Homo sapiens: one gene and its partners. The protein of the gene in region 3 interacts with the protein of the main gene of each other region in a biochemical or structural test. Each region holds a gene or a part of one and is shown on either strand. Other genes may lie near its edges.

Region 1 (7,956 bases), on a different chromosome or scaffold from region 3:
TCATAAAAATTGAAAGCAAAATGAAACAAACCTAACAGTGAATTGAGTGGGCAGTATTACCACATTGAATCAACTGTGTCATGTGACTTTACAGCACAGTAATGCAGCTCTAGTGAAAATACCAAAAGAATTGCAAACATAATCAAACGGCTTATATTTTTTTTCAATATTCTGGTACGAATATTGGTATTTTTATTTTGAGAAATTGTGAGTATCATGGAATAAACAAATGAATAACTATATTACTGGCATGAGTACTAGGGTTTTTAGCATGGGACCAAGCAGCTACAGATACAAGATTGAGGTCATTAAGTAAACACCTGTGGTCCTGAATGTGCATTGGCTACATCAGTAAAATGTTATCATATATCTTATATTTAATGAACACCCTGTGCATACGTTTCTTAGCTGTTCACTAGATAGAATGACCAACCCAGAAGCAATGTGCATCCCTAGGACCCAGACATCCAGGCACTCAGACTGTGGTTTCTATTTCCCACAAAAGAAACTAAGAGTCTGTGGAGAAATGTCTTATTGTAGATCTGGGCCACGAAAGGTACAAAACATTAGAAGGAAAGAAGCTATAAAAAAAACTACTGGGATCATGGTCAAAAGAACTCAGGAGCCAACTGGTAGAGGAGAGGCTCTCACTGGCCAAAAATGGGGAAAAAATTCTGAACAATAGTAAGATTAATAAGTGCCACGGACTGAAACACATACAATACATTATAAACTGAATGTTTATAATGATAAACACACACACTTTCCTCACTACACCTGTGGAGGATGCTGGGAGCAGCTTATTGTTCTAAATGCTGGTAAAGGCATTTCTCCTGCTTTTTCTATACACACTGTACTTCAGGGTAATCAAATAGTTGATGAAGGGGTGTTTTTCTTTATAGAGAATATCCTAGCTAATAAATAAAATACAAATGATAAAATCAGAATATCATCATTTTATAACCTATAATAAAATATTGACTGTAGGCAATTACCAATGTCCAGTAACACCAAAGAGACACCAGCAATTAAGGGCTTCCTAACAGAAGTATATCATACCACTCTCTGTAAAGGGTTCTTGCCAAAAAATGTATTTGTGTGTGCTGTATCTGTGTGTGAGTGAATGTGTGTATCTCAAACCTGAAATCAGATGAAAACTCTAGATTTAACTACCAATCTCCACAGTAGCAAGTTAAGTGACAACAAATTCTAGATCACAGGAAATTGCATGAGACAGATGACACGGCTTTTCAACAAATAAACTGCAAGGGAGTAAAAAGTGACACAAGACACCTAGAGTAACAGGTTTAGTCCATTTTACACTACTATAACAGAATGCCACAGACGGGGTAATTTATGATGAACAGAGCTTTATTCGGCACACAGTTCTGAAGGCTAGGAAGTCCAAGAGGATGGCACCGGTATCTGGAGAGAGCGTTCATGCTGTAGTATCGCATGGCAGAAGGCAGAAGGGCAAAAGAGGGCAAAAGTGTGCAAGAGAGCAAAAGGGGGCCGAGCTTGCTTCTATATAAAGCCCACTCTCACAACAACTAACCCATTCCCACAATAACATTAATCCATTTATGAGGGCATAGTCCTCGCAACCTCATCACCTCTTAAAGATCCCACTTGCCAAAACTGTTACATTAAGAATTAAGTTTCCAACACATGAACTTTGGGGGATACATTCAAACCATGACAACAGGGATATATGAATCAACCTAATTTCAACAAACAATTTATCAATCAATAAAAAATATATGTGGATATGTATGTATGTGTTTCTATATAATATAGACATGTGTATACATATGTTTGTGTATATACATGTCTATATATGTATGTGAACTACAGGATTTGATGATATTAAGAAATGGCTGATTTTTTAATACGATGATGACATTGTTTTAAAGAAAAAAGACTCCTTCTCTTCTGGAAAAATATACCAAAATATTCACAGGTAAATTGGTACAATATATGGGATTTACTTCAAAATTTGAAGGAGTGGTGAATGAAAAGAGAATTGAGTGACAGCGAGTTGAGATCAGTTTGAATGACAGGCATATAGGCATTTATTGTAACTATTCTCACTACTATAAAAGACAAGTTTTCTGTAAAAAAGTTTAAAAAGCATATGAACACAAATAACAAAAACCAATGTAACTAATATTAACAAGGTGGTAATAGAACACTGATATCAGACTATACATTCTAACTTAGGAGGCCATCATGATCACCTGAGGAGCTTCATGAAAATATAGTCTTTGAACCACCACTATTTTAATGAACCTCAAAGGCTGAAGGAATTGTGCATTTCCCTCAGGACAGCAGGAGTGGGGAAAAGAGGCTGAGAACCACTGTGTAAACACTTTAAGGGTATAGAATATATATTATTCACCCAGTATTTATCTTAATGTCTAACACTTAAGAAGCACTTAAGAAACATAAGGTGAATTAATTAACGATCCACAGATGTACAAATGAATAGGCAAGCTTAATAGTAGCTAACTGCCAGATGTGAAAAAAATCATTATTCATATTTGATATTTAAAAAAATTACTCAGGTTATAGAGTTTAAAGAGTATGGCTCTCTGTTTTGAGTGGAATGGGTTTCCTTCATAAAGCCACAGACTAGTCACTTCAAACAGCTACAAGTAAACACCCAGAGTAAAAATAGTTTTAAATACACAATTGGGTGGGGTGTGGCTAGAAAATATTCTGATTCTACAATCTGTTTTGGACAAGACAGTGCTTCTTATGTGACTAACAAAGCAAACAGCAGTCAGATTCCTTGTGCTGAAATAAGTACACTATTTGCAAAAAGGGTTGAATGTCCAAGGCTTATTCAATAAGGACACCACATTTTCCAAAACTAAAGGGGAGTATAGAATGACAAATACCCACATATATTTACATATCCCTAAAAGAAGACATACAACCTCCTGGTATGGATTTTTTTGTGTCTCTAATAAGTACTAACTGGAGCCAAGTCTACCATCTGACCATGGAGAACAGCAGAATACCTCAAGCACAGGAATAATCTAATTTTAAAACTGGGAGGAGCTTAGAAACCACCTAGTCCAAACTTTTCATTGTGTTGATAAAAAACAGACACCCAGAGAGGTTAAAGTGAAAGGCTCTGAAAATTGTTGCAATAGCCACAGATGAACAAATGGTATACACAGGGGCATAGCACTATGTATTAAGAGCTGAGAATTAGTCTTCTGAACGTTCACGAGTGATAACTAACAGGGTATCAGTCTCAATTATAAGCAAATAGCAGTATGTGTGTGCATGTGTATCACCATATATACACACAAAATATTAAAATATATATTTTAATAATTCCTTTCAAAACAAATTCAACCTAGCATTCAAAAGCATCCATAAAGTTACCTCACCTACTTTTTCAAAATTGTGTCCAAATGGGCCATAAGCCAAAAGGCAGGTGTTTTCTCTCACTTATCTTTTGTAGTCTCCTACAGATGTAGCAGAGTACATATTATAATTACAAAAGCTATTCCATATATAATTTCCAAATGATGAATTATAAACTTTCCTATTTTGTTATTCTAAACTGCTATAAGAAACATATTTTATATGTATCTATGAGTATTATACAGAGATATATACAACAATGTAAATTTTTTTAATATGGCAATCAACAAAATGCTTACAAGCAAGAGGAGAGAGGCAATGAGATGCCTTATCCATTTACATTTCCATAAAGGGCTATACAAGGCTTTGTTTAAAATACAGAAAATTGCTTGAAGGGGAGAGAAAGGGAAAAGAAAAAGGACAAATCTTTAGTTCATTCACTGGTCAAACTTTCAATTATTTCAATTATTGATTAGTCCTGAATCCATACTACTTTAATTCTGTGGAGGTAGAAAAATGATGTGTCTATGCCTGTGTATGGAATTGTCCTCCTCAACCAGTTCACCTGCATAGTCAATTTGATTTTGATTCAAAACGATGAAATTAAATAAGATGAAAAATTTGGACTCTCAACTTCCCACCTTTATTAGATTTTTTAGGATCCTAAAAACTGATTTTAAAGGCTTCCTAATATTGTTAAACAGAGTCTAACTACCAAAATTGACAACAATAGTGTTTACTTCCACCTTTGAGGGAAAGTGTTTCTAATTGGGATGATTCCTAACTGCAAGTTAAGCCAATAATATTTTTTTTAAGCTGAAAGCAAAGTTTGAAAATTTTTTTCTCCTGAAATAAACACAGCAATCTTATGTAAATTAACATAATATGAGATTATCAAATTAAGGGGTTTTTGCAAACTCTACTGCAACTCTAAAGTAAACCCAAATTTAAGCAAGAAAATCTGAAGTCATTTACTGAATATAGCGTAGTGTTGTGAATAAGGGATCTAAATCCTAAAAGCCTAAAAGTAATTAAGAATTGGGGTCAGCTATTTTCACAAAAATTTATGAATATTAATAGACACATTGATAACTTTATGTAATAACTCAATAATTTAGATGATGGTCTAAATCCAGTACCCCCTTCAAGGAATTTTATCCGCTTTTATGTACTACCACATATTATATAATATCAACCAATTAACATAAGAATGTGCTTTTCAAAAATAAAAAGGGGGTATCATCATTCCACCGTGAACCAGCCTGAACACTAGAGTATTAATTAATAAAATAGAATCACAGACAAAGACGGTCCTTGGTTAAAACTATTAATATATATTTAAGACAATGGGTTTATTTTTAAATAAGAAAACAAGGAAAAGGAGAGCCCAGCCCGATCTTGTGTGCCTACCCAATAGAACTTTCCACCATAATTAGTGCTTACCAACTTTGAGGGGAGGAGCTTAAGCTCAGGGTAACCTCATGTAGTAAGGGAAAAACAGTATAAATACCACTGAACAGCTCTTGAGAGGCACCTTCTGCACTGCTCATCTGGGCAGAGGAAGCTTCAGAAAGCTGCCAAGGCACCATCTCCAGGAACTCCCAGCACGCAGGTAAGCGTACGCTTACTGGTGGACTTCCATGTTAACTTGCTTGGAAAGAAACTTTAAAGATTTAAATACTTGAGTTTTCTCAAGTATTAGAAGTATTAAAGTGATTTAAAAAATGGGTTTCTACTAAAATGCACTCCAAAAGTTCTTTTTGCATCAGTCTGTGGATGATAGTCCCAATAAAACCATATTGTAAAAATTTGCCCTAATCCGAATTTCAGTGTATTTTGAAACTATTAGATATTTCAGGCTATGTCAAAGATCCTAGATTATTTAATACAGACATCCAATCCTAATTTCTGTTTCTTTTCCTTTAGGTAAATCATTTTATTTTCACTTGATTACCTGAGTATAGCTTCCAAAAATAACTAAGACATATATTCACATAACTAAAAAATGATCTCTCATTTATTTATGGCACATATTAAAAATATATAGGATAGGTTAAAAAAGTAGATAACTGTATAAAGAACTCATCTGTGAAACATGAGAATAAAAAAATAGGTTAATAACAATGCTGTATAAAGTTATTCTTTTCTGTTTTTCAGAATCCATCTGAGAATATGCTGCCACAAATACCCTTTTTGCTGCTAGTATCCTTGAACTTGGTTCATGGAGTGTTTTACGCTGAACGATACCAAATGCCCACAGGCATAAAAGGCCCACTACCCAACACCAAGACACAGTTCTTCATTCCCTACACCATAAAGAGTAAAGGTAAATTGAATTGTATATTTTGTTCTATTAACAAGTTGCTTGTTGCTTTCTATAATCTTAATAATCTCTTTAACAAAATGCATTTAACTTTGGTGTTACTTTCCAACTTCTGAATTAGCCCAAATTATTACAACAAAGTGATCTGTGAAAAAAGTAGAACAAGAATATCCAATAAGTGTAGTAGAAAGGATATACTTGAAAATATAGTTGAAAGATATACCTGCAAAAAATCAGAACTTTTGTGTGTACAAATTTTTTTCTCAGATGCTGCTTTTGCACAAATAACTGCATGTAATCCAGAAATCTTGATCTAATCAAAACTAATCAAGTTTAAAAATTTTAAGCTAAAAATAACTGCCAATTGTATAAAGAAGGTAGCTGGTTTATTTAGCTAAATATTAAACATTTACTTTTAAAACTAATTCAACTAGCCCACAAACAGATATAAAACCGAGTCTTATCAAAAAAATCTGATGGCCTCCCCCCCAACAATGAACAAATGTAATTATGAGAATTGCCAAGCAGGCAAATGAAACTGCAATTCTCATAATTACTTATACATTTTGAATATAGTTTAGCGGTAAAATGCAGAGACTTAACTGTAATGCATAAGCTGTGTGACCTGAGGTAAGTTACTTGTCCTCCCATGCCTTAGTTTCCTCATTTGTAAAATAAGGAGCAGCTATCTCAAGGGCTGCTGCGAAGTTTAAATGAATTAATACCTGTAAAGTGCTTTAAGTGTTGCTATTACTTCTACTACTACTTCTGTTACTCCTAGTTTTATTTCTACTACTTTTAGCTACTAATATAGCCTTCAATAAGTTAACTTTCTTCTTGAATCTGTTGCTTACCTGTCCAGTTTTCTTGGTTACTCTTTGAAGATTACTGAGATAATATATGTAAAGCACTAAGGTTCTCAAAGGAGGGCAACTTCTAGGCCTCATATTCACTAATTTTATTTAACAGCAACTGACACGACCGCCTATAAAATATCTACAGAATAATATAAACTGACTGTAGGCTTCAAACTCCCTTTCCATAATTTTTTAATTATATATTTTATACTGTAAATAAAGCTAAGGATATTTGTTATAAAGTTTAAATATTATGCTTTTGGGAACAACCATTTTGAGCAATGAAACTTATAGAATTGTCTTTTTAAGAAGAAAGATGGAATTTAAAATATTTCACAAAAGGAAACTTAATATTTGAAAATAAATGCACAGGTATACAACAGATACTTTTGAATGTCTCAAAATATAAATAAAAATTTTAAAATTTAAAGGCTAGTAAAGAAAAAAATAAAAGACAAAGCAACCTTCCGCTTTACTTGAAGCAACAAACACAATTTGAAATGCTATGACAAACAGCACTGGATTCAATAGTTTCCATGATCACAAAAATCAGACTTTTTAACACCTTAATAAGAGCATAACAAAGTCTTGAATTAAAAAGAAAATGCACTATTTTAGAAGGTTAAAAATACTTTGATCTTCTCTTAATATACACCATTATCTTGGCTACTTTTGCAGAACAAATGAAAATATCTTAACAAATGAAAAGTTCAGAAGCTGTATTTAAACTACTAAATCCACCTTAGTCTCTTTTTAGATAGACACTCAACTACACTATCATCCATTGGCAGACATTAATGCACCATAACAAACACAAAAGCCCACAGTCTATACAAGTAAGACATTAAGTTGAAACAGGAATTCAAAGAGTTATTACATAATTCCTAGGCATATCCATCCAACACAGGTTAAAAAAGAGTTCTGTCAAAACATACTAAATTATGCTGCAGAGGATTCCACAGCTGGTGGGCAGATGCACGTGCCACATTCTGACACAACCAATCACGATTTCAGTTTGTGGCATTTAAAAAACTTAATAGAAGGAAGTAGTCGTTTTACCTTGAGGATTGTGCCACCCTAATCTTGAATGAAGAAAATTTTTTCAGATGACAACCTACAAACAGGGGCTGTCCCCCAAGCATTCAATAGAAGCCAAATTCTTTCTCGCACTGAGAAGTTGAGACCCATTAGGACAACATTCCAAGTGACAAAGTTCGCCCTGTCACTGGAGTTCCAGTCTCGGATGACGCCCAATGCACTCATTTCCATTGACTTGTTTCTCCTTTTTAATAGTAAAACAGATTTCCAATCAGACTAAGACAATTATTTTTAGTGTGAACATGACCCTTATAATCAGATTCTAAAGCAAAGCTCAATCTAACATAGTTGGCATTTTAA
Region 2 (7,108 bases), about 67 Mb from region 3:
ACCTGGAACAAACCTAGACACTCTGACTTCTGAACCCAAACACGTAAACCACCTCATGTTAAAGGAAGGTGTAAATCTTTAGAGAATGCATTCCTGCCACCATCATCTGAGTTTTTCATTCTCTCTCCCTCTTCCTCCCTCCCTCCCTCTCCACTCCCTTTCCCTCTTCCCCTTTCTTCCTTCTCCCTTCTCTCACTTCCTTCTTTCTTCTCTCCCTTTTTCCTTTCTTTCTTTTTTGACTCCAAAGTCAAAACTATTTCCTTATTACTGTCAACCTAAAGCCTCAGATTATGCTTTGAAGACTTGACTTCTTTTTTATGTTTATTTCATATAGCAGAGAATTTGCTAAAGTGAATAAAATATTTAGTGGCTTCATGAACTGATGAAATGGGCTATTTGCTGTCCGTGTTTTGTTTTTATTTCCTGTTCATTTCCTCCTCCCATCCTACTTATACACTTTCCAGTTTCTCCTCTCCCCAGTCCCCTACACCTATGCTGCTTCTAAACAACCTTTTTGGAACCTGTTAACTTTTTTTTTGAGACGGAGTTTTGCTCTTGTCACCAGGCTGGAGTACAATGGTGCGATCTCGGCTATCTGCAACCTCCACCTCCTGGGTTCAAGTGATTCTCCTGCCTCAGCCTCCCAAGTAGCTGGGATTACAGGTGCCCACCACCATGCCTGGCTAATTTTTATATTTTTAGTAGAGACGGGTTTTCATCATGTTGGCCAGGCTGGTCTCGAACTCCTGACCTCAGGTGATCCATCCGCCTCGGCCTCCCAAAGTGCTGGGATTACAGATGCAAACCACGGCACCCAGCCTATCTTTAAAATATTCCCTGAAAAAAAATAATAAAGCCAAGTTCAGCGGCCTACAGAAGAGTATCAGGACACGTAGGGAAGCACCTTAATGTCATGGGAAAATATCCTGAAGTTTTAATATGCCGTACCAGAAGGGGGAACAAAGAATTACAACAGAGAAGCATTTCTCAAACTGTTTGGAGTGAGAGATTAATGAATTTGCTCAGGGGAAAAAAGGTGCTCTGGTCAAATAGGTTTGTTAAACCTTGAATACTCTATGTCTCTCCTCCTGGAGAATACCAATATACATTAGCATATAAAAGGTTCTGCGAAGTCCTGCAATAAAGAAACCTGTTACACATCTACACATCACCTTAGCACCTCTCACACTCACTTGACCATGGCACCCTTCTCCCCACTCCATTCCAAACACTTATTTGTACCTTTCAGTTTCAGAAAACAAAGTTCAAATTATCTTTACATCAAAAACTTACTATCTTTCCTTTACAGACTCAAAATCAGATCCTGAACTCCTGTCAAAAAGGAAAAAAGAAAAGCTCCCAACCAAGCCAACAGTGTCAACTTCAAAAGCCTTCAGAGTTGGAACGTGCCTGCACATCTCTGATACATCAACTACAACATCAAACTAGAAGCTTTGCACAAAATCTAAGGAGAAGGGTCTTACACATCTGTGTACCAGGTGGGCAATTCCATGAGAGGGGAACATGGTAGTATAACTTAGCTTGACAACTGTCCCTGTGGGCATTCTTATTTCACAACATTTAGCTATCGAGGGTATCACTACTTTAATCTTGCATTTGTCCACCACAAAGCTCATTTACACGGCCTCTTAAACAAACATGGCCAGAGCACATGGTCCTACGTTTCACTTCAGCTTCACCACGCCAGATGACTTTTGTACGCAGGCCCAGCCATGATATGAGTGAAGCAGCAGGAGGCAGAGGAACGGTGGTTTGGCTGATTTGGAAGACAATGTATCATAATAAATCTTGGGCAGAGAGGAAAATTGAATGGACTCACCATACACAACCAGAGAGACCACATGGCTCTGCTTCTCCTTTGAAATGGGATTGGTAAGGATGACAGTGTAATTTCCTGTGTCTCTTTCACTCACTTCCATAATCGTCAGTACATGCCCCGCTTTAATTGTGTGATTGGACTCAAGGGGTATTCCATTTTTATACCTATGAAAAAAAATTCTCAGGAATTAGTATAGTCAAAGGATTTGCTCTCACACGAAATGATGCTTTGCATTTATTTCCAGTAGTTACCATTTTATTTCTGGGGGTGGGTAACCAAGGTACTTCGCAGGGATTCTGACACGCTCCCCCACCGTGGCTTCCACCAGAGATTCCATGCCACTTCCAAAAGCAACAAAAGGTTTTTCTGGAAGAAAATAAAAAAAAAAAAAGGTCAACTTACTGTAAATGGTCATTTGATTTAGTTTTTCATTTCAAGTGAAACGTCAAAGACCTTGAGGGTCTGAGTAGCTGCAGTTCCAAGATTTCCTGTACTATCTTTCAGTGGGTCACTTTTCAGCTTCTCCCACACCTCCCGTGTTTCTCCCACACCTCCTGTGTTTGCATTTGCTTTTCTCTCCCCGCTAGTGCACTCCCACAAGCCTAGTGATTGCTCAAGTCTCAACTCAAACACTTGCTCCTCTGTGCAGCTTTCTCTAAGTCCCCCAGGGATGCTTGGGTGCTCCTTCTCCTCTGCTCCCATGACAGCCTCCACACACCTCTTCCACCATGAGGCCCCAGGACTCAGTCCTCAGACCTCCTCTTTATTTACACCTTCCTCTAGCCTCAGGTTTAAAGTATCATTCACGTACCTCCTAAATGTGTTATCTTCTGCCCTGACTCCTCTGGGTTCCGGGTTGATATGTTAAATATCTCCACTTGGATGTTTAACAGGCATCTCCAGATAAACATATCTAACACTGTTTCCCTAAATCTCACTGCCTTCTCGATCTTTGCCATCTCAGTAAATAACACCATCATTTACTCAGTTGCTCATGCTAACGCTCGAGTCATCTTCCACTCTTTTTCTCTTATACTCCACAACCAATGAATTGATCAGCGGACCCTGTTGACTCTACCTTCAAAATATATCCAGAAGCAGATCACCTCTCACTACCTCCACCTCAACTACCCTTGTCTAAGCCACCCCTCAACTCTCACTTGGATAACTGCAATTAGCCTCCCAACTGACCTCCTTATTTCTGCCCCTATTTCCCTGAAGTATTCTGGAAAACAAAAGTAATTCTATAAAAACATAAGCCAGAGCACATCTCTCTCTGTGTATTTTGACAAGTGCATCTTGGCAAGTGAAATAATTTAAATAAATTTAGGACACTTAGTGATTTCTATTTTGTTCATTCAGAAGAAATTTTCAAGTTCTTGCTAGGGATGCCACGTGACCTAGAGGTCAAGAGCATAGCTTTGTAGTCAGGAACTTGAGTTCCAATCTCAGCTTCAAAGATGAGATGAGCTAATAAAGTAAGTGCTCACTAAATCATACTTGTTATAGTTGTTGCCACTTTTATGATTACAACTCTAATAAATAGCATTATCTAAGGTATTTTTAAAATTTCACTGTATTGATGCATTCTCATAATATAAACTCCAAAATCCTTTCCAAGGCTTATAAGTAGGATGCCACACAAATTACCATGTAAACTCAGACATTTATGTAAATGAAAGAGAATAAACAAAAAATTAAGGTGATTTTCTCAAGGCCAGTTCAATTTAATTCCAGTTCAATTACAGTTGACCCTTAAATAACACAAACTTGAACTACATGAGTCCACTTATAAGCAGATTTTCTTCCACCTCTGCCACCCCTGAGACAGCAAAACCACCCCCTCCTCTTCCCCCTTTTCCTCAGCCTACTCAACGTGAAGACAAGGATGAAGACCTTTATGATGATCCACTTACACTTAATGAATAGTAAATATATTTTCTCTTCCTTACAATTTTCTTAATAACATTTTCTTTTCTCTAGCTTTATTGGAAGAATACAGTATATAATACATATAACATATAAAATATGTGTTAATTGACTGTTTATGTTATCAGTAGGGCTTCCAGTCAACAGTAGGCCATTAGTTATGTTTTGTGGAAGTCAAAAGTTATACCTTGATTTTTTTTTTTTTTTTTTTTTTGAGAAGGAGTTTCACTCTTGTTGCCCAGGCTGGGGTACAATGGCACGATCTTGGCTCACTGCAACCTCCACCTCCTGGGTTCAAGCAATTCTCCTGCCTCAGCCTCCTGAGTAGCTGGGATTACAAGCTCCCACCACCACACCAGGCTAATTTTTTGGATTTTTAGTAGAGATGGGGTTCCACCATGTTGACCAGGCTGGTTTCGAACTCCTGATCTCAGGTGATCCACCCACCTCAGACTCCCAAAGTGTTGGGATTACAGGCGTGAGCCACCGCGCCCGGCCTATACATGGATTTTTGACTGCAGAGGAGGGAAAGTTAGGGGAACTCCCCTGAGTTCCCCCAATCCCTGAGTTGCTCACAGGTCAACTGTATATTGCTAAATGTTTCCCCAGTTTGCAAAGCTCATGCTTATTCAAGTAGGCCTCTCAGCCTTGCAATAAAATGAAAATTTAAAAACTACCTTAGCTAATACTATTTATCATAGTAACAATCCTAATAGCAGCAATAACTATAATAAGTAATACTAAATGAACTCTTACTGTATATCAGCACATCTCATCTTTAAAGTTGAGGTTTGAACCCAAGTTCCTGACTACAAAGCTATGCTCTTGACCTCTAGGTCATGTGGCCTCCCTAACAAGAAAAACTAGAAACTATCTTCTGAATGAACAAAATAGGAATCACTAAGTGACCTAAATTTATTTAAATTATCTCACTTGTCAAGGCACAGAATAATTTCCAAGACCATAGCTTACCATGGACCCTGACAAATGTGCTGTTCTTCTTGGTCATCAGCCCACTGGATGCTGCACAGGTGTACAATCCTTGGTCACTCCGGGTTACACCATCTATAGTTAAGGTGCTCAAAAATTTCTTCATCTCACTCCCAGACTGGGTTTTTAGGTCTCGGTTTACAAGTTTCTTATGCTGATGCTGAAAAAAAGAGTTGACTGAACTTCCAAAGCACAGCATATAACATTACCCAATAACTTCTAGTAACACACAGAATTAAATCTGGGCTTTGGTAAACATTATTTAATGCTAAAAACAGGGACACCAGAACTTTTAACCTCATGCAGACAACAAATATATTTTGTTTCAGGAGAAATAAATGGAACCAACTGAATTAGGATTTTTAAAACCTCACGTGGTGAAAGTGAGATGGATATAAACTGCAGAAACACAAGTAAATGTGACCACTGTTTAAGGAGCAGTGTATCTCATGCCACCTCTTAAAGAGAAATTCCCTTAAAAGGAATGTAGATCAAAAACTTTGGAGAACAGAGAAATGACATAATGTGGAAAGATGTAATCACCTAGAGAAAACTAATATTCATAGCCTGGCTATTGCAGAATAGGACAAAATTCCTGGTATTTCACCTTTTGGTGGGTGCTATCTGTTCTGCAATTCCCTTAAATTGTGTGTGTGTGTATGTGTGTGTGAGTGGGTGTGTATGTGTGTGTGTTTAAGGCTCTTACATTTTATCTGGCCAAAGAGGCCCCTATCTCTCAAGCAAACTTCACTGGGGCTTATTATCTAAGTATTTGGAGGTCTGGCTTTGAATCATTAGCGTTACCTTCGAAGAAGGGTATTCCCAGTTGAAGTCAATCCCCACATTTAGTTCAGTTCTTGCTGTACAATTTAAGACAAGCTTTTCTCCAACAGATAGTTCAATTCCATGAGACGGACTCAGAACCACATCATAAATCCTATACCCTAGAGCAAGTAAATTGAAAAAACAGAACATGAGAGAGCAAATAAGCCTATAACTTTGCACAGATTTATTTTTTAAAGTAATGCAACTTTAAAACATGCCACATTGTTTTTCCCTGCAGGCCTCACCAATACTTGGTAGCTCCCAGGAAAATGGCCAACAGAGGTTTACAAAGCACTACCTTCACAGATCTCAAAGATGTTGTAACCCAGTGGACAGAAAAGTAGTAAACTTTCAGTGGTCAGTAGCCCTAGGCCAGTAGGGCCAGCTTTAGCAAATTGCTGAAGTTTCCATAAAATAGTCATAATTGAAATAATTGATAGCAAGCAATGCTCTGAACATTGAATTCTTCATAAAATGTGCTCGAGTAATACCATTCGCTTTCATCCTTTTTTTAAAAAGTTTTCTTTTTCTTCCTTAATCTTGGCAAGAAAAGAGACAACCTCAATTGCACATGGGTTTATTTGGTAGAGAAGAGCAGATGAATTGCCCAACACCATATCCTGAGTTCCTATACTTTTCAATATCCTTCTTCACTCTATGTTGTTATCTCCAAGATCTTAATACAAGGATATGTTATTAATGATATGGAAAGGAAATGTCCTCTTACCTACAACGACAACTATGTACATAATAGACTGGTAACTTTCATCATTAATTTTTGCTTCACAGAAGACCATGCCAGCATAGCTGATCATGTAGCTGGGAATAGTAAAGCCCTTCTTGCTGTCCCAGGAAATTCTGTTACCATCAGGAACAAATCTCTTTTCTGGGTATCTCTGGGTAATAAAAAGACATATCAAATATTTAATCCAGTACCAAAAATGAGAGCCATGTACAATGATCACTGAAGAATTCATCTTATTTTTAAGAATACTAATTAGTTTTATTCATTGCATTTGACCCTTCCTAAAGGATCCTTAAAACTCATTGTGAATATTATAAACAGGTTACCCATCTTAATATTAGCTTAAAATTATAAAAACTTAAGAGACGATTGGAGGAGATGCAACTTACTGCACAAAGTGACACGTTGAGATTTGAAATGGACCCGAGACATGGAATCACCACAGTTTTGTTTTTGTTCTCAGTAATGTACACGACTCCATGTTGGTCACTAACAGAAGCAATAAATGGAGATCTGTAATCTAGAAGAAAATTTAGTTTTATTAATGAGTTAATAGTATTTACTAGAAAAGTTGGTCATTTTTCAGGTTCCTAAACTCTAACCAGACAAGTGAATGACTGGAAGGGACACCTCACACAACCAAAGGCATCCACAGATTATTCTGCTGATAGATATCTGTGCTACATGAGGGTGTGTGTGTATGTGTGTGTGTGTGTTTGTGCATGCACATGCATGTGTATATATCTGTGTGTATAAAAATTTTGAAAAAAAACTCCCAA
Region 3 (7,882 bases):
AAACCAACCGAAAATATTTCTGATCAAACCTTGTAACTTAAACATATACCATAGAGATAATTCTGATGTTCATGAGAACACTTGGACACAGAAAGGGGAACATCACACACCCACACCGGGGCCTATTGTGGGCGGGGGGGAGGGGGGAGGGATAGCATTAGGAGATACAGCTAATGTAAATATTGAGTTAATGGGTGCAGCACACCAACATGGCACCATGTATACATATGTAACAAACCTGCATGTTGTGCACACATACCCTAGAACTTAAAGTATAATAAAAATATATATATAATAAAAAATAAATAAAAAATAAACAAAAAAATTCTGATGTTCATGAAGCTTCTAATGAACAATTACGTAGCCTAGTTTTGCCTTCATGACATTCTTACTGCTCAGACGCCGCACCCAACTTTAATACTAAACTTTTTTTTTGAGACGTAGTCTCACTGTTGCCCAGGCTGGAGTGCAGCAGCGCGATCTCAGCTCACTGCAACCTCCGCCTCCCGGGTTCAAGTGATTCTCCTGCCTCAGCCTCCCGAGTAGCTGGGATTACAGTTGTGCACCACCATGCCCAGCTAATTTTTGTATTTTTAGAAGAGACGAGGTCTCACCATGTTGGTTAGGCTGGTCTCGAACTCCTGACCTCGTGATCCACGTGCCTCAGCCTCCCAAAGTGCTAGGATTACAGGCATGAGCCACCATGCCTGGCCAATACTAAATATTTTAACAAAATGTTTTACTTTCATGATTTCCAAAAATAGTAACAAAACTAGAACAAAATTTAACACTCTGTATCTTTTTTAAAACATTACTTGTAACTTTTATGATTAGTAAAAACTGTAGTTTTGATAGAAAACAGTCTTGGTGTTATATTGTCATAGGGCTCAGGTACATAATTTTATATGCAAACCACCATTCTCCTAGGTTTTCTATACACATGGCCTTTATGATACTAATCATTCTTTGAAATTATTAAAATTAATGTCCACAACTGGAAAATATGTTCGCTTATACTATTTGGGTAAACAGTCTACATAATGAAAAGGAATTGATGGACCCTCAGACATCACTGGGGAACTTACAAGAGATTCAAGAAACTGCTAAATGAGCAAAGATAGAGGGAATTATTATTCGATGCTTGTTAAATCTTCATGTACATCACCACACCAGCATATCAAGATAGGAAAAATATTACTCAGGAAAGTTAATTCCACATAAAAGTATCCTTTCTATGGAGAAGAACTTAAACCAAACTTTCCACTTGAAGTAATATGAGAATTGGTTTACTGTAACATTTAAGTGCAAAAGAGGAGGTAAGAATGGGATCACTGTGTAAGTTTCATAAAGTAATCAACTAATCTTAATCCTCCCATTTTCACTTGGAAAGGACCAAGAAACCTTTTTCAATTTTGATAAGTCAATCTGATAAAAAGTGAACTATAAATAAGAGACAGCATTGTTTTAGCAGTTAAAACACTTGTTTAAAAAAAACTATCTGGACTCTGACAAGCCGGTTAGATTGACAAGATCTGTGAAATCAGTTTTAGAGTTTTTAAGCCCTGGTATCTTATTCACAAAAGACTGTATAACATGGTCAATATTTAAAGACCTTAAACTATCTTCTCTTTCCTACATTTTTGATAAACATTAATAACAGTAAAGAAACCAGGCGCAGTGGGATTACAGTCCTGAGGCCGAGGCGGGAGGATCACTTGAGGCAAGGAGTTTGAGACCAGCCTGGCCAACATGGTGAAACCCCGCCTCTACTAAAAATACAAAATTAGCTGGGCATGGTGGGGCGCCTGTAATCCCAGCTACTTGGAAAGCTGAGACACGAGAATTGCTTGAACCCGGGAGGCAGAGGTTGTAGTGAGCGAGATCACTACGTCACTGGACTCCAGCCTGGGCGACAGAGTGAGACTCCGTCTCAAAAAAAAAGGAAAAAAAAAAAACAGTAAAGAAAGCCTGTAGTAGATTATCAATTTCTGAAACAGTCCCAAGGCAAATTCAATTGAGAACTCGTTCCACGAGTTCATTGCTTAAGAAAAACAGCGCTTGTGTTTAATCTTTTGGATTAAAAAAAAAATCAGAGCCTACGTCCTACAGTTTTAGTAAAACTGGGCTGAGCAACTGGAAAAAGCCAATGCTCAATCACAGTATTAAAATACAGAAAACTTTGCGGAAAAAAAATAAAGGAAGTCGGGGGGCGGGGTGGGGGGGGAATGCGTTCGCCTCACATGACCACGATGAGCTGTTCTTGCTCCGGTTCTAATTTGAGCTACTCTCTGGATTTTGGGGAAGGCCCACTTTTACACATTCACTCATGAAAAGGGAGCGCACACAAATCCGGCCACGTCACCAGCTGTTGCGCGCGAAGGCAGCTTGGCGGCGTCGGTGCTGGTTCCGGAGGGCGCTCAGCGGGAAGAACCGGGACACAGAAACGGGGGCAGGGAAGCAAAGGGGGAACAAGAAAAGTGGAAGCGATGTCCCCAAAGCAGGTTCCCTTTCCTCCTAAACTTTTTGGCTCTCAGACAAATCCTAAAAGTCCCTCGTCGCAGCATACAAAGTTGTGGGTAAATCCAGCGCAGTGGGGGGCGCACGGCCTTACCTGTGCCATGGCGACTACTCAGGTCAGGGGAAGGTGAAGCAGGACTGCAAAAGAGAAGAAACCTCGGGCTTAGCGCGCCATTTGCAACTCGTGCCCTCCCCAAGCGCAGGTCCGCGGGGACCCGGCGGCGCTCAGACAGCCCGGAGGGCCCCGCCACGGGGCCGACCCGCCCTCTCGCAGCTACCGGGACAGCTCTCGGCCGAGCGTCCGCGCGAATCCAGTGCCCCGCGACCACGCTCTCCTCTCCAGAAGGAGCCCCCTCCCCGGGCTGCGACCACTCACCCAGACTGTGGGACCCAAGTGCCCCGAAACCCCGGGAGAGCGGCGGAGAGCCGGGCGACGGTACGCGGGGCGACGCCGAGATGCAGACGCTGAAGGATCCGGCAGCTGCACCTAGACTGATCCAAGCAACGGAAACGCCAGCGGCCCCACCCCGGCCCTGCCCGGCTTGGCCCGTCCCACCCCCGCCAGGGCCCCAACCGCAGGCCGGCCGCGCCAGCCGGGCCCGCCCCTGCCCCGGCCTCAGCGCGCCTGCGTGGGTCGCGGCTCGTCCCAGTTGGTCTCCCGCGGCGCGGACTGTCCCGCTGGTCTCGCGGGCCTGGGTGGGGAGCGGCCGCAGAGCTGCTGGAACCAGGAGGAGGCGCCGCTCCCCCGAGGGCCCCGGAGACCTCTTGTCCTCGCGCCGCGGGAAGGGCCTGGGGAGCTGTCCAGGGCTCGGGGTTTTGGAGGTGCTTGAGCCTCCCTGCCCTCTGTGACCGCAGGAACCGTAGCCTCACTTGGGTGCTCAACATAGTGCGTGGGCGTCTTTTTGGAGGCGAGACAAAATCATCGCAGCTAAGGACAGCGCGCCTTTGTCGATGGGATAGAAAAAACGTGAAAGGAGGGCCGTTTCCCAAGTTGTTTTTGTTTCTGTTTTGTTTTGTTGTTTTGTTGTTGTTTTAATGCCTATTATTGCTTCCTAGATGGCCCTCTCTTAAATGTACAGCCTTCTAGTAGCGTATGTGGGCTATTTGAAAACCTCTGCTTCCAATCAGTTTCTGTTTTCAAAACTAGCCTAGAACTTTAATATGACTTAAATTTGAGCAATGCCTCATATTGGTTCAACATAAAATATATGAGTATATGAGAGAGAGGGGGAGGGAGGGAGAATCTACAGCGTATTGTACTAGCATGGTGCTGTGTTCTGTGAAAGGGCTTTATATGCAAAGCAGCCCCCAAACGCGAAGGAGTCAAGAAACCAAAGAACGAGACAGACAAATCCAGTCTGTAGGTAATAGGGGTGCTATTGGAGGATGTGGTAGACAGAAGCGTGGCCTTGGGCGGCGGCAAGCAGATAAATTTCTGCACTGTTACTCCCCAGACCCTGGCCTTATATACCGTAAGGAAAGAGTATACTGCTCTGTGCAAGACAATTAAAGGCAGCCCTCCGGAACAGGTGAGAATGCCGTATGCTTCATAGCCTACAATGTGGGCAATAGCATCAAGGTTGACATGTTCTTATGCTAAGGACAGTTTAAAAAAAAAATCCTAGGAATCAGGAGGTATTCATGGGACTGGGGTTATTAAAGGTCAACATGGCGGATTAGCATCCGGGATATAATCACTTTTGTCTCCATATGCTGGAAAAGGAAAAGTAGAAGACACAGGGACCTTCTCAGACTTACTGGTGTGGGGAGGGAAGGTGCCAGGGCAGAGGGGGCAAGAGGACAAGTTTGCGACACTAGATGCAGTGTTCTAGACATATGCTAGAATGGGAAGGGCAAAGTGCTTCTCAACGTGGAGGTTAAGGGTAAGAGATGAGGATCTAGTCTTCTTTGAGAATGAGGAAGAATAAATTAAATGGACAGCAAATGTGGTTCTTTGTATAGAACTTCTCATTCGCTTTCACGTGTGAACCACATGCCTATTCCAGCCCTGACAAAGTCACAACAGAGTGGTTGTTCTCTGGGAAAGGAGGCAAAATTGCAAAATTTGTGGAGCTTGCCAACCCCATCACCCCCACCCCACTGGCGGGTTGCCTTTCCTCTGGGAGCCTCCTCTCCACCAGCCCAGCTGTCTACTCAGCCTCAGGCTCTCCCCAAGTCAGCACCTCCCCCGGGTTTTCTTTACAGGTATTAATATATCTGAAGGCAGCCCTTTTCTGAGCATCTGTCTCCGTTGCTCCAGCTTTTCTACTTTCTCTCTGCCCTGCACCAAAAGCAGGACCTGTAGTCTTGCCTAGAGCATTCTTTTTTCTCACCCATATCCACTTGAACTCAGTTTGCTTCTCTCACTTTCTACTCTCACATTAATGGAGTTAAACAGGACCTCAGAGATCCTGTATTTAACAATCATTGATTTTACAGGGACATGAGACTCATCATGGGTTAGTGACTTGCTCTATGTCCTGCAGCTAAATACTGACAAAATCGATGAGTTATTGGACTCAGAGTCTTGAAATACTCCAGGTAGCATTTCTTTCACTTCCAGTAATATCAGTTTATTCAACTCCTACTCTGGACCAGGCACAGATCTAGGTGCTGGGGTAAACACGGCAAGTGAAACAAAGGCCTTGCCCTCATAGGTCATACATTCTGGTGGAGGAAACAAACAATAAACAAGTATCTAATATGTCCTGTGTGATGCGTGGTATAAAGAAAATAAAGGCTAGGGAATGGAAATGAAGGGAACACTTATTTTGCAAAGGTGATATGAAGCCATTTCTGAGAAGCCTTGAACAGAAACCTAAATTGATACAATTTAATTGTATTTGACAACTATACACTGAGCACCTGTGGAAAGGCCATACCTAAGAGTTTGCACCTTAATATTATAGATAAAGCATGTATATGAACACTACAATGAGAGACTATAAATCAGGAAAGAAATGCCTAGAATGCAATCAAAATGCAATTAGTTTCAGAGGAAGGAGCTAATATTTTGTCAGATGGTTGACATAGCATTTGGATTAGGCTTTTGAGAGAGGATATTTTATCAAACTATGAAGGGGAGAAAGGGTGGTCTGGTTAAGTGAACTGCAAAACCAAGAGAAGGAAAGTATCTCTTTGTGTCTGTGTGATTTGAACTGTCTAAAATGGCTGGAGTGGAAGGTACAATATTAGAGTTGAGAGATGTAGAAACTAAAACACAAAGAAGCTCAGCGACTTATTTAGAATAAAGAGAGATTGCCACATAAAGATTCTGCTTTGAATTGTGTATTTAATTGATGGATTTTGAACAACTGATGTTCTTAACTACTGAGTGATATAAATGATAGGCACTCAGGAAATCTCTTTCACTACCTCTTGTCAGCCTAATAACAAACAGAGAGGGAGACTTTCTAAAAGAAAATGATGTTTATTTGGGAATGGGCATTGCAATGGGAATATGTGTGCCATATTAAACTATTTTGCGTATTCAGGGAGGTAAAGGAAGGCAAAGGTTTTTCAAGGAAGAAGGAAGATTACATCATTGTTTTTGAGATAATTATCCTTGGCTACAGTAATCAATAACTAGAGTGGCACCAGTCTAATGTTGTACAGGCAGTTGCTGGGCAGATGTCTCCGCAGAAGTTCTCATTTTCTCTCTCTCTCTCTCTCTCTCTCTCTCTCTCTCTGTGTGTGTGTGTGTGTGTGTGTGTGTGTGTGTGTGTGGTTGCAATGGCCTTTGTCCAAAGTTGTGGTTTTTGCAGTATTTTTCAATAGTTCTTGTTATCAGGCATTTATGTATTAGAACCCTCCCTTCATGGCCTTCCCCAGCCATTTGTCAGGGATTTGTCTCGTTTTTTAACACAATTGACTCCATTTTGATAAGGACAGCTTTCACACTCTTAAAAACAAGTGTCTGTCATTCATCCCCCAATGGCCTTTATCAGTGTCCAAATGTCATCTTTAGAATCTCTGCCGGATTCGCCAGTTAAGTCTTTCATCTTTCTAATTAAATTTTCTCTTCTTACACATTTAAAAATTAAAGTCCTTCTTTCTCAGTGTATTGTCTTTGTGTTGTGTTCATTATAAGTACTACATAATAATTGTGGGGAGTTTTTTATACTATTCTTAGATATAAATAATGAGTTTCAGCTGTTTTCTATGAGACACTCAGGTCACATCAATTTTCTTTTTATTAGAGAAATATACCAAATGCCAGAGAACTAATTTACAAACACACTTTTGAAACTGTATTTATTTGTTAACTCAGGATTTTCCCTATTTCTCTCAATTATTTGGATCATTCAGGAACTAGCCAATTTATTCTAAATAAGTCGCTGAGCTTCTTTGTGTTTCAGTTTCTACATCTCTCAACTCTAATATTTTGATCATATATTCATGGCCCTACTGTTTCCCTTGATTATAATGACACATAAAGAAAAGAAAATGAGTTACAGGCTTTTTATAAATAAGTACAAAACAACTCTTCTTTAGTTTTAGAGGAATTGGAATCTTGTTTTTTAGAAAATTATAACATTTTCAACCAGTCTACTTTAAAAATTGATTTTGTTTAATAAATATATCTATTGCAAATTATGGCAAGTTAAAGAAGAAGAAAAGATGGCAGGAGAATGAATTGCATGAAGCAGAAGAAACGAGAGAGTGGCTGAGGAGTAAAGTAGGGGCTAGATACAAAGGGAAAGGAGGAACATCATGTCTTCCAGGCAAGATCTGGAAAAAGCACACTCTCTGAAGACAGAGACAGTTGAGTTCAAATCCCTACTCTGCCTGCATACCAGGGATGTGACTTGGACAAATTATGTGATTTCTCTGATCCTTGGCTTCCTTATCTAGAGTGGAGGCTAGTTTCAAATAAGTTAATTTGTGAAACTGCCTAACAAATTGTGAAAAAGGGTTGATTCCATTCCCCCATGGCTCTTTTTTCTTTCAGAAACACTAACCATCATTCTCAGTTCCTGTTCTGATGATTAAGGACCCACCTTCATATTAAAAGCAAAAATAACCTCCTCTGGACCCACTGCTCCACTGCAGCAGGACCTATTGCCAGCCAGTCTCTCAGAGACGGCAGGTCCAACTCTTGGGGGCCAACCTGATGCTTCCTGGTGCCATTCCCCCTTCTTCCCGCCTATTCTGCCTCATCCAGAGTCTACCATCGATGGCCCCTATCAACATACAACTAGCCTAGACCCCCACCCTCTACCCTTCTCTCCACACGTGGGCCCTCTGATCCCCATCTGCTGGTGCCAACAACTGTAAAACCGTCACCTGGAATTTAATTCAAGTCACCTATCTGCCCTCAACTCATTCATGTCTTAAAGTCCCAGGGTGAGATTAGAGGTGGGGC

Evidence for each region.
Region 1: the proteins of ANXA5 (region 3) and COL10A1 form a complex in vitro, tested with the Homo sapiens proteins (one study listed by BioGRID).
Region 2: the proteins of ANXA5 (region 3) and KDR form a complex in vitro, tested with the Homo sapiens proteins (one study listed by BioGRID).

Annotation. Positions count from the first base shown.
Region 1 is NC_000006.12:116,123,087-116,131,042, reverse strand, and holds the start of COL10A1 (collagen alpha-1(X) chain precursor), read left to right. Parts: upstream 1-4,910; 5' UTR 4,911-4,990; intron 4,991-5,535; 5' UTR 5,536-5,550; coding exon 5,551-5,704; intron 5,705-7,956.
Region 2 is NC_000004.12:55,108,563-55,115,670, forward strand, and holds part of KDR (vascular endothelial growth factor receptor 2 precursor), read right to left. Parts: intron 6,850-7,108; coding exon 6,719-6,849; intron 6,481-6,718; coding exon 6,312-6,480; intron 5,704-6,311; coding exon 5,564-5,703; intron 4,920-5,563; coding exon 4,742-4,919; intron 2,207-4,741; coding exon 2,092-2,206; intron 2,005-2,091; coding exon 1,841-2,004; intron 1-1,840. UniProt on the Homo sapiens protein: Tyrosine-protein kinase that acts as a cell-surface receptor for VEGFA, VEGFC and VEGFD. Plays an essential role in the regulation of angiogenesis, vascular development, vascular permeability, and embryonic hematopoiesis.
Region 3 is NC_000004.12:121,693,970-121,701,851, forward strand, and holds the start of ANXA5 (annexin A5), read right to left. Parts: upstream 3,012-7,882; 5' UTR 2,894-3,011; intron 2,656-2,893; 5' UTR 2,621-2,655; coding exon 2,612-2,620; intron 1-2,611. UniProt on the Homo sapiens protein: This protein is an anticoagulant protein that acts as an indirect inhibitor of the thromboplastin-specific complex, which is involved in the blood coagulation cascade.